Regions from separate parts of the Homo sapiens genome. Here all the other regions are linked to region 1. The links come from fine-mapping of genetic effects on gene expression. A gene starts in region 1. Each other region holds a variant in brackets. All regions are shown on one strand. Distances are from middle to middle. Region 1 holds the start of METTL8 (methyltransferase 8, tRNA N3-cytidine). Region 2 has its middle 130 kb from the start of METTL8. Region 3 overlaps LOC107983995 (a long non-coding RNA gene).

The links. PIP is the estimated chance that this variant, and not a neighbour inherited with it, causes the effect. A credible set is the group of variants that fine-mapping cannot tell apart.
Region 2: its variant is the best candidate, but not a certain one, in a credible set for the expression of METTL8 in esophagus mucosa (GTEx, PIP 0.50).
Region 3: its variant is the best candidate, but not a certain one, in a credible set for the expression of METTL8 in blood mononuclear cells (TOPMed, PIP 0.55).

Annotation. Positions count from the first base shown.
Region 1 is chr2:171,432,255-171,436,490 of GRCh38, reverse strand. METTL8 (methyltransferase 8, tRNA N3-cytidine) reads left to right here and starts at 2,501. Exons shown (of 10, transcript NM_001321154.2): 1 at 2,501-2,608. DCAF17 (DDB1 and CUL4 associated factor 17) reads right to left here and starts at 2,265. Exons shown (of 14, transcript NM_025000.4): 1 at 1,788-2,265; 2 at 1,305-1,408. The coding sequence starts at 1,913. RefSeq lists enhancers at 1,439-1,998, 2,818-2,887, 2,560-3,120, 3,098-3,267 and a silencer at 1,598-2,507.
Region 2 is chr2:171,301,641-171,305,876 of GRCh38, reverse strand. No RefSeq gene overlaps it. Among named protein-coding and RNA genes, the nearest start is that of METTL8, 130 kb to the left of the region's middle. The variant G/A (reference allele first, on the strand shown) is at 1,954.
Region 3 is chr2:171,240,888-171,245,123 of GRCh38, reverse strand. It overlaps LOC107983995 (a long non-coding RNA gene), which reads left to right. Exons shown (of 3, transcript XR_923576.2): 3 at 117-491. Among named protein-coding and RNA genes, the nearest start is that of TLK1, 82 kb to the right of the region's middle. RefSeq lists an enhancer at 1-821. The variant T/C (reference allele first, on the strand shown) is at 2,002.

The sequences.
Region 1 (4,236 bases):
ATCAAGTGTTGACAAGAATGTGGAAAAATCAGAACCCTCATATACTGCTTATGGGAACATAAAATGGTACTACCACTTTAGAAAAGTGTATGGCAGTTCTTCTAACTATTAAACGCAGTTACAGTATAATCTTATGACCTACCAATTCCATTCCTAGGTATAATCTAGGAGAAGTGAAAATAAATGCCCACATAAAAACTTACATGGAAATGTTTATAGCAGCATTATTTATAATAGCTAAAAGGTAGAAACACCAATGTCTAACAACTGATAAACGGATACGTAAAATGTGGTAATTGATACAATGCAATATTATTCAACTTTATAAAGGAATTCTGATGCATGTGACAACATGGATGAACCTTGAAAACACGCAAAGTGAAAAAGCCAGTTACAAAAGACCATATATTATATGATTCCATTTATATGAAAAGTACAGAATAGGTGAATCTACAGACAGAAAACAGACTAGTGGTTGCTTAGGGCTGAGGGTAATGGTGGTACTGAGGTGACTGCTTAAAGGTACATGGTTCTGTTTTGAAGTGATGAAAATGCTCTAAAATTAACTGTGGTAGTGATTACATGTATCTGTGAATGCATTAAATATTATTGAACTGTACACTTTAAATGGGTAAATATATGGTATGTGAATTATATCCTAATAAAGCCTATAAAAAAAGCTCATTTTTTTAAAAATGCAAACTGATGTATGTTTAGAATATGCTTTAAAAGAGGTCATGCAAAAGGAAAAGTGGGTTAGATAAAGCAAATGTGGCAAATCTTGATAGTTTTTGAATCTGGGTAATGAGTATATGGGGATGCATTGTGGCTTTCCTTCCCCCCTCATGTTGGACAGTTGTGGATGAGGCTGACTGTTAAACATTTTGGATCTCTAAATACTAGGCTTTTGTTTGAAAAAATTTCTCTAAAAAAAAAAAAAAAAGGCAAGTACTTCCAAAACACAATCCATCAATTCTCCAAAGCAGCATCTAATTATTTGATTGGCAACTGGATTTCTTGACTGTGGTATAAGTAGACTAAACACTAAACAGTACTCTGAACAATCTGTGGTTTTGCCTGCACTGTAGTTTTGCTTTAAGTTGGTATTTACAAAAATGACACCTGCAACTTTAGATTTAACAAGATTTTAAAATTACATGCATTTTTTACTGCCTAGTCTTATTTCGGACCCATTTTTTTCATTCTATTTCACTAGGCACTAATGTAGGCATGTGGTTCTATACAAATTATAGTTAAGATCAACAGTGAGGTGAATTACAGCAAAATTATCAATAAAAAGTTACCTGCTGACACAGCGCCGATAATTGTCAAAATATATTCTTCCTCTCTCATAGGCTATAGGTGACCTGGAATGAGTTGTCCAGACATTCTTAAATTTAGTACTTTCCTAAAAGACATAAAGAATTTCCGTTCAGGAAAGAACTCTTAGGCTTTAAGTTAGATTTTAAATTTTCAAAGCAACATAATGTCACCTATATTATTTTAAAACTTTTTGCATCCTTCCTCCACTCTGCCCTCATGTTTTGGCTTAATGAGGTGACCAACTTTTAGAATAATTGTTTCCAGGTAAGACATAAGAAGCGTAAAACTAAAAGCAGCTGGTGGCCCTATTACCACCTATCCCAGATTCCGGGCTTGTATCCTCCTCCCCATCACATGTGACCCTATAAAGGGAGGCCCCAGCGCGTTAAAACCGCATCCCCGCAGGAGGCTCGGCCGCCGCGCGCCCGCGGCCCTCCGTCCCGCCCCGGCCGGCTGGCGGTCACCTGGCACACCAGCGCCCGCAGGATGCCCAGGTTGGTCCTCTGCACCACGCCTGCGTCGCGCGAGAAGCAGCCCAGCGCCCGGCGACTCAGCCGGCTGCACACGTTGGGCTTCCGGGTCGGGCCCATGGAGGCGCGGGCCGGGCCCTGGGTAGGCTGGGCCGCCGAGTGGCGCGCCCCACACTCCCGTGCTGGGCAGCCGCCGCTGCCTTCGAATTTCGAGGCCCAGACTTTCCCGGCGGGGCCCAGGGAAAGCTGACACGGGGAGGCGGGCAGGGAGCACCCGACGGCGGGGCGAGGGAAAGCAGAGCCGCTTGCACCGCCAGAGCGCGGAGAGAAGGGAAGAAGCACTCCCTTTTCGATCTGCCCCAGGCTCTCTGGCCGCTGACAGTGCGACGCTCCGGTACCGCGCGGCCGGCCGGAGCCGCTCTCTCACCGGGAAATGTAGTTCCTAGTGCCTCGTGAGGCAGCCCGGCTTCTCCCAGGAACTACAATTCCCGTCAGGCGGCGGGGAGCGAGGGCTTGCCCGGCCCTGCCTCTGCCTGCCGCGGCCCCGCCTCCTCCGGCCCGCGGAGGCTGCGCTGTCTTGCGGGCGCGCTTCTCTGTGCTGCGAGTGGCTAGCTGGGCAGAGCCCTGGGGGCGCGGTGCTGCCGCCTCCAGGTCTCCGCCCCGTGTGTGCGCCCTGCACTTAGGGATCCCTCCCTCACTGCCCCGGTACTCACAAGCTTCTCGGCCCCGACCTTCGCCCTGGGAGGTTCTGGCCAGGTGCCGGGAGGGGCGCTGTGTCGAGGGCGATCCCCCCAAAGCAGCGTCCCGTGCTAAAGGTACGCCCCGCGGCTTTCCCTTCAGCCGCATGTTGGCTGAGGGGGACGGTAAACTGTGCTTTTGTATTAGGAAGATGCTGGCTTCCCATTCACTCTTAGTTTCACCCTCCAAACTGGGATTGAGTTACTCTTTCCCGGAGGCTTGTCCTTGGGTGGCCTGCGGGGACACTGACTGGTTTTGCGATAATTGCTTCATTTCATTTCCTCTCGCCTCCATTCTTTTTTCTTTATAGGGAATAAAATATGAAATGCTTACATTCTTATTGGACGGCCTAAGATATTCCTCGTCGATGTCTCTAAGTAAAAGATATACTTTGTTAACTAGCCCTGCCTGTATGTTCAAAGTTCCCAGCACACTAAACTTTCAGCAAGCTTGCACCACATGTGTCCCACCGCCATGCTCTAAGTCCCTTAAGGGTGGGGCCGCTGTATCTCCCACGTGGACTTGGGCATGCTACCTCTTGTTCATAGGTGCTCAAAGAAAGCCAGCGATCGCACCTGACTGGCAGAGCAAAAAGTACAGTACAGCAGGTCCTTGAATCGCATTTTTTCGTTCAGTGTCATTTTGTATAACTTGATGAGAAAAAATAATAATTTCCTACCGGGGCTACTGTTTGTGTGGATCTTGCCCCTTCTCCCCACGTCTGCATGGGTTTTCACCAGGTACCCCAGGGTACTGCCTCCCACATCTCAGTGCAGGCTGGATGAATTGGCCTTGTCTGTGTTTCCTGTCTGAGTGTGAGTGTGAGTGCTCCCTGCGATGGAATGTCGTCGTGTCCAAGGGTTGGTTCCCACCTTGCACCCTGAGCTGAGGGGATAGGCTTCAGCCACCCTCGACCCTGAACTGGAATAATTAGGTAAATAACTATCTTACTTGTTTTTATTAATCTTCCTTAAATGTATGTATAGCTCCCATTTATTTCAATGTTTAATATTAGAAGTGTTTTGGTTTGTATTTAGGAGTTTGGTGATGTTTTTGTGACCAGAAATATGTTATAGGAACTTAACTTTTGTTTATATCAATTGGCCTATGGTAAAAATGGTTTTGTTATATGTCATTTTGCTTACAGTCAGTTTCCAAAAATCTGTTGATGACATTAAGTGAGTACTTACAGTACTGGGTGAGTGTGTTGGGTCACAGTTTAAGTGTTTAGTAAACATTGGCCATATCTCTTTTTAACCCTGCTGAATTTCCTTCAGGGCTCGAGCTTTTGCTGATTTTTCATGACTTATTTACAGCATACGGTAGAGTGCTTTGTATATTTTTAGAGAGTGCTACAATAGTTAATTTGGTAATTCATGAATGCAGCTGTCACTGAGAAAACTGGAACCCAGAAAAGATAACTGGGTTTTCTTTGGCTTAAATGAAATTCAAATCATTTCTGAATTGAATTCATCAACTCTCTCATTTCTCTTTCCTCTTTGCCCCCACTTGTTTGTCTTCTTTCTTGTGGCCTTTATTTCACCACCAAGTCGTCACCAAGGGAGAGTCATCCTGGATGCCTTGCTGTTCCTCACCCACAACCAAGTCCTTTAGACTCTTATCCATCTCATCTTCATTTCACCTAAGTAATTTAGGGCCTCACCATTTTTTATCACATTATTAAGTAGTCTCTTAATTTCTGCCT
Region 2 (4,236 bases), 130 kb after region 1:
AAGGAAAAATATAGTATGATTCCACTTACATGGGGTACCTGGAATAGTCAAATTCATAGAGATGGAAAATAGAATGGTGGTCACCAGGGCTGGGTGACAGGGGGATGGGGAATTGTCACTTAATGGGTACAGAGTTTTAGTTTTGCAAGATGAAAAGGGTTCTATGGATGATATTGATGGGCCCAATATTGATGGTAGCACAACAATGTGAAAGTACTAATGTCACTGAATTGTGCACTTAAAAATAGTTAAGATGGTAAATTTTATTATATGTGCATTTTACCACAATTTTTAAAAAAGCAGCTAGCGGCCAGGTGCAGTGGCTCACGCCTGTAATCCCAGCACTTTGGGAGGTCAAGGCAGGCGGATCACGAGGTCAGGAGTTCAAGACCAGCCTGTCCAATATGGTGAAACCCCGTCTCTACTAAAAATACAAAAATTAGCCGGGCATGGTGGTGCGTGCCTGTAGTCCCAGCTACTCAGGAGGCTGAGGCAGAAGAATTGCTTGAACCCGGGAGGCAGAGGTTGCAGTGAGCCAAGATCCCACCACTGCACTCCAGCCTGGGTGACTGAACGAGACTGTGTCTCAAAAAAGAAAAAAAAAAAAAAGCAGCTAGCCCAGTGTTCAGTCTGGCCTTCCAAAACTATGAACTTCTGCCCTCTATTTCTAGCTCCCTGGACTTGCCATCCACTTTTTTCTTTCTTTCTTTCTTGTTTTTTTTTTGTTTGTTTGTTTTTTGTTTTTTGAGACAGAGTCTCACCCTGTTGCCAGGCTGGAGTGCAGTGGTGCGACCTTGGCTCACTGCAACCTCCACCTCCTGGGTTCAAGGGATTCTCCTGCCTCAGCCTCCCGAGTAGCTGGGACTACAGGTGCATGCCACCATGCCCAGCTAATTTTTGTGTTTTTAGTAGATACGGGGTTTCACCATGTTGGCCAGGATGGTCTCGATCTCTTGATCTAGTGATCAGCCCGCCTTAGCCTCCCAAAGTGCTGGGATTACAGGCGTGAGACACCGTGCCCGGCCGCCATCCACTTTTTATATACACCACGCTGTTTTCCACCGTTTCTCACTATGGCCAGCCGATGTCGACTGTGCCTGGCACTGTGCATATACTCTTGTCATCCAGTCCCAGAGGAAGGACTTAATTATAAGACATCCTGGACTCCCACCACCACAGAACCTTCTCATAACACTCCACCCCACAGTATGCTCTGGGATCATCACAACTCTTTGCCAAGCAAACCTGGGAAAGTTCAGCCCTTCCATTACTCCTTGTGGTTGGTGATGGACAAGTGGAGAGAGCCTGAAGCAAAGGAGTTACACATGACCTCCCTCTTAGTGTGCCTGGCACACCATAGGAGAAAAACCTCAACATTCTTTGAGGGTCAAGTTTGGCATTTTAAGAACTATATTTTTTTCTGTCTCTCCAGCCTCTTACTTTTTTTTTTTTTTTTTTTTTTTTGAGACAGAGTCTCATTCTTTTTCCCAGGCTGGAGTGCAGTTGTGTGATCATAGCTCACTGCCACCTCAAATCCCTAGGCAGAAGCAATCCTCCTGCCTCAGCCTCCTGAGTGGCAAGGACTACAGGCACATACCACCACACCTGGCTAATTTTTAAATTTTTTTTGGTAGAGATGGGATCTCATTTTGTTGCCCAGGCTGATCTCAAACTCCTAGGCTCGAGCAGTCCTCCTGCCTCAGGCTCCTCAAGTCCTGGGATTACAGGCATGAGCCACTGCACCTAGCTGCCTCTTGATCTCTGACCAAAGTGCTCATTTCCCATTTTCTGGTCTTAAATCTCCCTTCAGAGTTCATGCTCATCTTCTTACCTATGACTTCAGCTTATCTGTTATTTCAATCCAAATGTCACCTCCAACTGCATAGCCTAAAGCTTGGTGCTAGGGAGTGTCACTCACAGCAGGCCCTTCTGGACTATTATGACATGACTGCG[G/A]TCACATACAGCAAACCTGGGAGGTAGGAGGCAATATAGGTAAGTCCATGCTATCAATTTAGCATTTCGTTGACTGTAATTCATGTTTAGATGAGGCGACTCTCTTAGCCCATTTGGGTTGCTATAACAACAGAAATGTATTTCTCACAGTTATGGAGGCTGGGAAATCCAAGATCAAGGCACTGGAGGATTTGGCCAGATATGGTGACTCACACCTATAATCCCAGAACTTTGGGAGGCTGAGGGACAACTGAGCTCCTTCAGGACTCTTTTATGATGACACTAATCCCTTTAGTTCTCATGACCTAATCACCTCCCAACAGCCCACCTTCTAATACCATCACTTTAGGGGTTAGGATTTCGACATATGAATATTAGGGGGATACAAACATTCCAACCATAGCAGTGACCAAGTTAAAAATTTGGGTCATAGGCTAGGCGCAGAGGCTCAAGCCTGTAATCCCAGAACTCTGGGAGGCTGAGGTGGACAGATCACTTGAGGGCGGGAGTTTGAGACTAGCCTGACCGACATGGAGAAACCCCGTCTCTACTAAAAATACAAAAATTAGCCAGTCATGGTGGTGCATCCCTGTAATCCCAGCTACTCGGGAGGCTGAGGCAGGAGAATCACTTGAACCTGGGAGGAGGAGGTTGCGGTGAGCCGAGATTGCGCCATTGTACTCCAGCTTGGGCAACAAGAGCGAAACTCCGTCTCAAAAAATAAAAATAAAAAATAAATAAATAAATAAATTGGGTTGTATTAAAAGAGGTCCTGGCCGGGTGTGGTGGCTCATGCCTGTAATCCCAGCACTTTGGGAGGCCGAGGTGGACGGATCATGAGGTCAGGAGTTCAAGACCAGCCTAGCCAACATGGTAAAACCCCCTCTCTACTGAAAACATAAAAAATTAGCTGGGTGTGGTGGCAGGCGCCTGTAATCTCAGCTACTTGGGAGGCTGAGGCAGGAGAATTGCTTGAACCTGGGAGGCAGCGAGCCAAGACTGCACCACTGCACTCCAGCCTGGGTGACAGAACAAGACTCAGTCTCAAAAAAAATATAAAATAAAATAAAAGAGGTCCTATATACTTTTGTTTTTACCCTTTTGTTAAGGTTAAAAAAAAGTTTTTTGTTGTTGTTGTTAGTTACTTGTCTCTGGCCCCTCTACTCTGGAATTAACCACCTGTCTTAATTTTCCTAGATCCTTTTTATAAGGTGGTTTGCAGACTATTAGCGTTAACATCACCAGGAGAGGCTGTTAGCAATTCGACCTCGCAATCTCCAACTCAGGCCTAGCAAATCAAGATCTGCAGCTTAATAAGATCCCCAGGTGATCTGTATTACATTAAAATTAGAACCGTTCCAGAAAGATTCTAACTGCTCTTGTTGGAACAATGGGTCTCTACCCTCATTGTTTATTGGAAGAACCTGAGAAGCTTTTAACACATACTGATTTGGCTTGGCACAGTGGCTCATGCCTATAATCCCAGCACTTTGGGAGGAGGAGAATTGCTTAAGACCAGGAGTTTGAGACCAGCCTGGGCAACATAGCAAGATTCCATCTCTACACACACCCCCAACCCCCCACCACCCCCAGGCAAAAAAATAAGTCCAGCATGGTGGCATGCGCCTGTAGTCCCAGCTATTTGGGAGGCTGAGGTGGGAAGATTGTTGGAGCCCGGGAGTTCAAGGCTGCAGTGAGCCATGATTGCTCTGCTGCACTGCATCCTAGGCAACAGAGTGAGACCCTGTCTCTCTCTAAAAGCAATAAGCAAACCTACTGATTCCTGTGATCCACCACCAGATTCTGATTTCATCTATCTATGGGAGGCCTAGGCATTGGTGTGTGTTATGTTTTTGCATTTTTTGTGTCTGTTTTTGTTTGTTTGTTTCCTCTGTACAGATGATGTTTTTTATTCTCTAGGAGATTTTGATGGTTAGCCAGGCTTGAGAACCACTGAGTTATGACTAAGAGAAAAATATCATGGAGAATACCATGGATAGTGAGCTCGTTTACAGTTGTAAAAAACAGAGTCAGATTATTAAATTTGAGTAGGTCTTAACCTTAATATATGACTATTAATGTGAAATTACAGATTGTATGTAGAAGCAATTTCTCCCCTAAAATCTTCCTCTCTGATTCTTTATATTTCTCTTGTTTTCTATTTCCTTAGTCCCTAGGGTATGTGTCTCAACAGCTCTTAACCTCTATTAAATAGTGTCCAGGGCTTCCAACCAAGTCTCGTGAGAGGGTCATGCTCCTGTCCCAGTGCCCAGAGCTGGTGCT
Region 3 (4,236 bases), 190 kb after region 1:
TATAGTTATAATTAAGCATGAGGCTTAATTATAGGCTGCATTTTGGCCTACTTACTTGTAACTGAAAGTCACATAGCACTGGATACTGACCATTTGCATCCACATTGTTTCTATAGATGGGATTTCGGATGTTGGAATCATGAGGCTTTTGTTTAAGAGTTGCTTAAGATGTTCTTCAGATCCTGAATTCCAGCAGAACAGCTGACATCCACAACCAGTTTGAGGATCCCCACAGAAGAGCTGAATCAACATGAGAATGCAGTTTCTTCATCTCTCCAGTCCATGACTTCACCCTGCAATCCCCACAGAAGAGCTGAATCAACATGAGAATGCAGTTTCTTCATCTCTCCAGTCCATGACTTCACCCTGCAATCCCCACACCTCAGCCCACTCCAAACCCCTTACAAACTCCTCAGGGAGGCAAATCTGAGGTTTCCTTCCATCTCCTTGTTCAGATGCCCTATGATTATTAAACCCTTTCTCTGCTGCAATCCTTGAGGTCAGTGTGTCCACTTGCCATGCTTTAGGTAAGGAACCTGTTACAGTCACACTTCCATGTCCTCTTCCACGGTGCCACTCTCCCACCACATCAATGTTACCAACCCAGAAGCTCTCTAAATTTCACTGTTCAAGAGTATTTATCAAAGCTTTGTTTTGTAGGTGTGTTTGATCAAATCATTGGCCATTGGTGATTGAGCTCAATCTCCAGCCTTTCTCCCCTCCCGGGAGGTTGGAGGGTGGGGTTAAATGTTCAACCCTCTGATCCCATGTTTGGTCTTTCTGGGGACCAGTCCCCAACCTAAATCTATCTAAGGCCACCCTGAGTCACCTCATTAACATAAACTCTAGTATGGTCAAAAGGAGCTCATTATGAATAACAAAAGATACACCTATCACTCAAGAAATTCTAATAATTTAGGAGCTCTGTGCCAGGAACTGGAGGCAAATAAAGACCAACTATATTATACCACAACTCAACACCATTAATTTGATTTATAAAGCTATGAAGTTAGACAGTGAGACAAACTTTCCTGAACCATGTACGCAAAGACCACCCCCAAAATTTCCCCCAAAGTTACTTCCCGAAGAAGCTTTGTCAAAATTTCCATTAGAAGTTATTTTCGGCCAGATGCAGTGGCTCATGCCTGTAATCCCAGCAATTTGGGAGGCCGAGGCAGGCAGATCATGAGGTCAGGACTTCAAGACCAGCGTGACCAACATGGTGAAACCCTGTCTCTACTAAAAATACAAAAATTAGCCGGGCGTGGTGGCGCATGCCTGTAATCCCAGCTACTCGGGAGGCTGAGGCAGGAGAATCGCTTGAACCTGGGAGGCGGAGGTTGCAGTGAGCCGAGACTGTGCCATCACACTCCAGCCTGGGCAACAGAGCGAGACTCCATCTCAAAGAAAAAAAAAGTTATTTTCAGTTCCTTGGCCCAAGATTCCTTGCAGCAATCCTTTCATTTTTGCTTTGCTACAATCAAAACAAGGAAAAAATTATGAAGAATATTAAAAGAGACTTTCCTGTAGTGTATGCATAAGTCGTTATCATGAAATTTGAAGTTGGGTGTGATTAATTACTATTTAGATTACACTATTCAGCATTAGATATATAATTTATTGACTATGGAGTAAGAGGTTGCTATTCCATATTTGTAAAATAGAAGAATTGGAGTCTCTGGATGATTTTAAAGTTCCTTCCAGTTTTTTGCTTCTTTCATTTTAATAAATACCCAGCATTCATTAAATCATGGGCTTCAGGGCCTTAGACACTTCATCGCCTTCTTACAGGTTCAAAAGGGAAAATCAGATTCCATCTACATCATTTTAATTGATGACACCATTTTGGAGAATATAAATCAATTGAGTTGTATGGACTTCCTATGGCTATGTCTTTATCATGGTATAACTTATGTTTAAATGGTTCTGAGAAAAGAAAAACAGCTCAAAGAGCTCTCAGCTCTGTGAGGTTTGCAGGCCCAGAGAGACACAGTGCAGGGC[T/C]TGCAGTCATCCCCTACTCATGCCTGGGGGTATTGTTTAAAGTCATTTTGTTCCTAACTAGCTGCCTCTCCTGCTGTCTTCATGTTCCTGGAATTCATGATACCAAGGACAGTATATAGCCAATCAATAGCTTATTTTATTTATCTTTTTTTTCTTTTTTTTTTTAAGAGACAGGGTCTCACTATGTTGCCCAGGCTGGTCTTGAACTCCTGAGCTAAAGCAATCTTTCCCACCTTGGCCTCCCAAAGTGTAGGATTACAGGCATAAACCACCATGCCCAACCTACTTATGTTATTTGAATAGAAATTATTTTCCTTTTTGATGAGTAGATTAAAAACGACGACAACAAAAAGAATGGAAATTCTTGGTAACCAACTCAGGAAGTGTCTCTTCTTTTCCTTTAAAAATCCTTGGCCAGGCACGGTGGCTCACACCTGTAATCCCAGCACTTTGGGAGGCCGAGGCAGGCAGATCACCAGAGGTCAGGAGTTCAAGATCAGCCTGGCCAACATGGTAAAATCCTGTCTCTACTAAAAATAAAAAAAAAAATTAGCTGGGCATGGTGGCAGATGCCTGCAGTCCCAGCTACTCAGGAGGCTGACCCACTAGAATTGCTTGAACCCAGGAGGCGGAGGTTGCAGTGAGCTGAGATTGCACCACTGCACTCTAGCTTGGGCAACAGAGTGAGACTCTGTCTCCAAAAAAAAAAAAAAAGTATTTAAAGTGTTTTGATTATTTTCTTTTTGTTTTTTTAATTGGGCAGCCCCAGAACCAGAATAGATCCAGAGAGACCCCCCTGATTTTTTGTAAGTTTCTCTGAAGATGCAGGTTGGCCAGAGCAGATTGTAAAACTGCGGGGTTTAGCAAAGAAATCACTTAAGCCAATTGAGAAGTGATTAAGGAGAAGGTTAATTGAATGAATTAGTAACTTAGTTACTAGAGTAAATTTTTTCTCATTGAAAGAAAACAGTGCCAGACACAGTGGCCCATGCCTGTAATCCCAGCACTTTTGGAAGCTGAGGTAGGAGGATTGCTTGAGGCCAAGAGTTCCAGACCAGCCTAGGCAACATAGTGAGATCCCTGTCTCTGCAAAAACAACTTAAAACATTAGTTGGGCATGGTAGGGCATGCCTGTAGTCCTAGCTACTCAGCAGGCTGAGGTGGGAGAATCACTTAAGCCCGGGAGCATGGGGCTGCAGTGAGCTATGATCATACCACTGCACTCCAACCTGGTTGACAGAGCAAGACACTGTCTCCAAATAGAAGGAAAAGAAGAAAACAAGTTTTTTAAAAAATATATTAAAATAAATAAAAAAGAAAGGAAACAAAGTGGTTAGACAGAGACTTCAGATAGTAGTAGAAGAGAAAAAAGGAGGGTGAGGGGAGAATAATTTTTCCTGAACAGAAAGAAGAAAGAGCAAGGAAAAGAGATATTGGAGAAAGACTTTGCCTTTAAGGACATGGAAGTCATACTCCACAAGATTCTGAATTAATGTACACAATGGGAGAAACCCTGTAATGTCTACTAGGACTTTTAAAGAGTGATTTCTTCCTAGCATGTCATAGGCCTGGAAGCTTTAAAACTGAGGGAAAAAGAAGAATTTTTTTGAAAACTAGAAGAGAAAAATCAAGATTTTGTTATGAAGTGGCAACTAAATGACATAGTAACAAAAATGTGTATCAAGACCTGTTTGACTATTTTAAAAGTTTGTTTGATTTTATATAGTGCCTAAATATGTTGATACATTTGTAATCAGTGTTTCAGTGTAATAAAATGATTAAGAACACAGTCTTCAAGACAGACAAGACTGGATTCTATTATAATTAAGACTGGTAACACAAATTCTCTGAGCCTCAGTTCTTCATTTGTAAAGGCAGAGTAATAATTGATACTAGCCTGCGGAGAGGATTCAATAATGGAAAGAAAGCCTTGACAATGTCTGGTGGGTCCGGATACCCCAGGAAGAACTGATTTCCTCCTGAGTCTTTGGACAAGCAATCAGAATCAAGTAGCTCTCTAGAGCACTGATTGTCAGAGCAGAGCTCTCCTTTAGTCCCATCAAATGCCATGGGATTGTGGAAAGTCTAGAGGTCACCTAGTCCTTTCTCCCCACCGAGGCAGGAATTCACTCTACAATATTGTTACTTGTGCCTGAACATGTCTACTTTGGAGAAATTACTTCTTAGTATGGCAGCCTATCTTGTTTTAGAATAACTGTATTAGGAAACTTTACT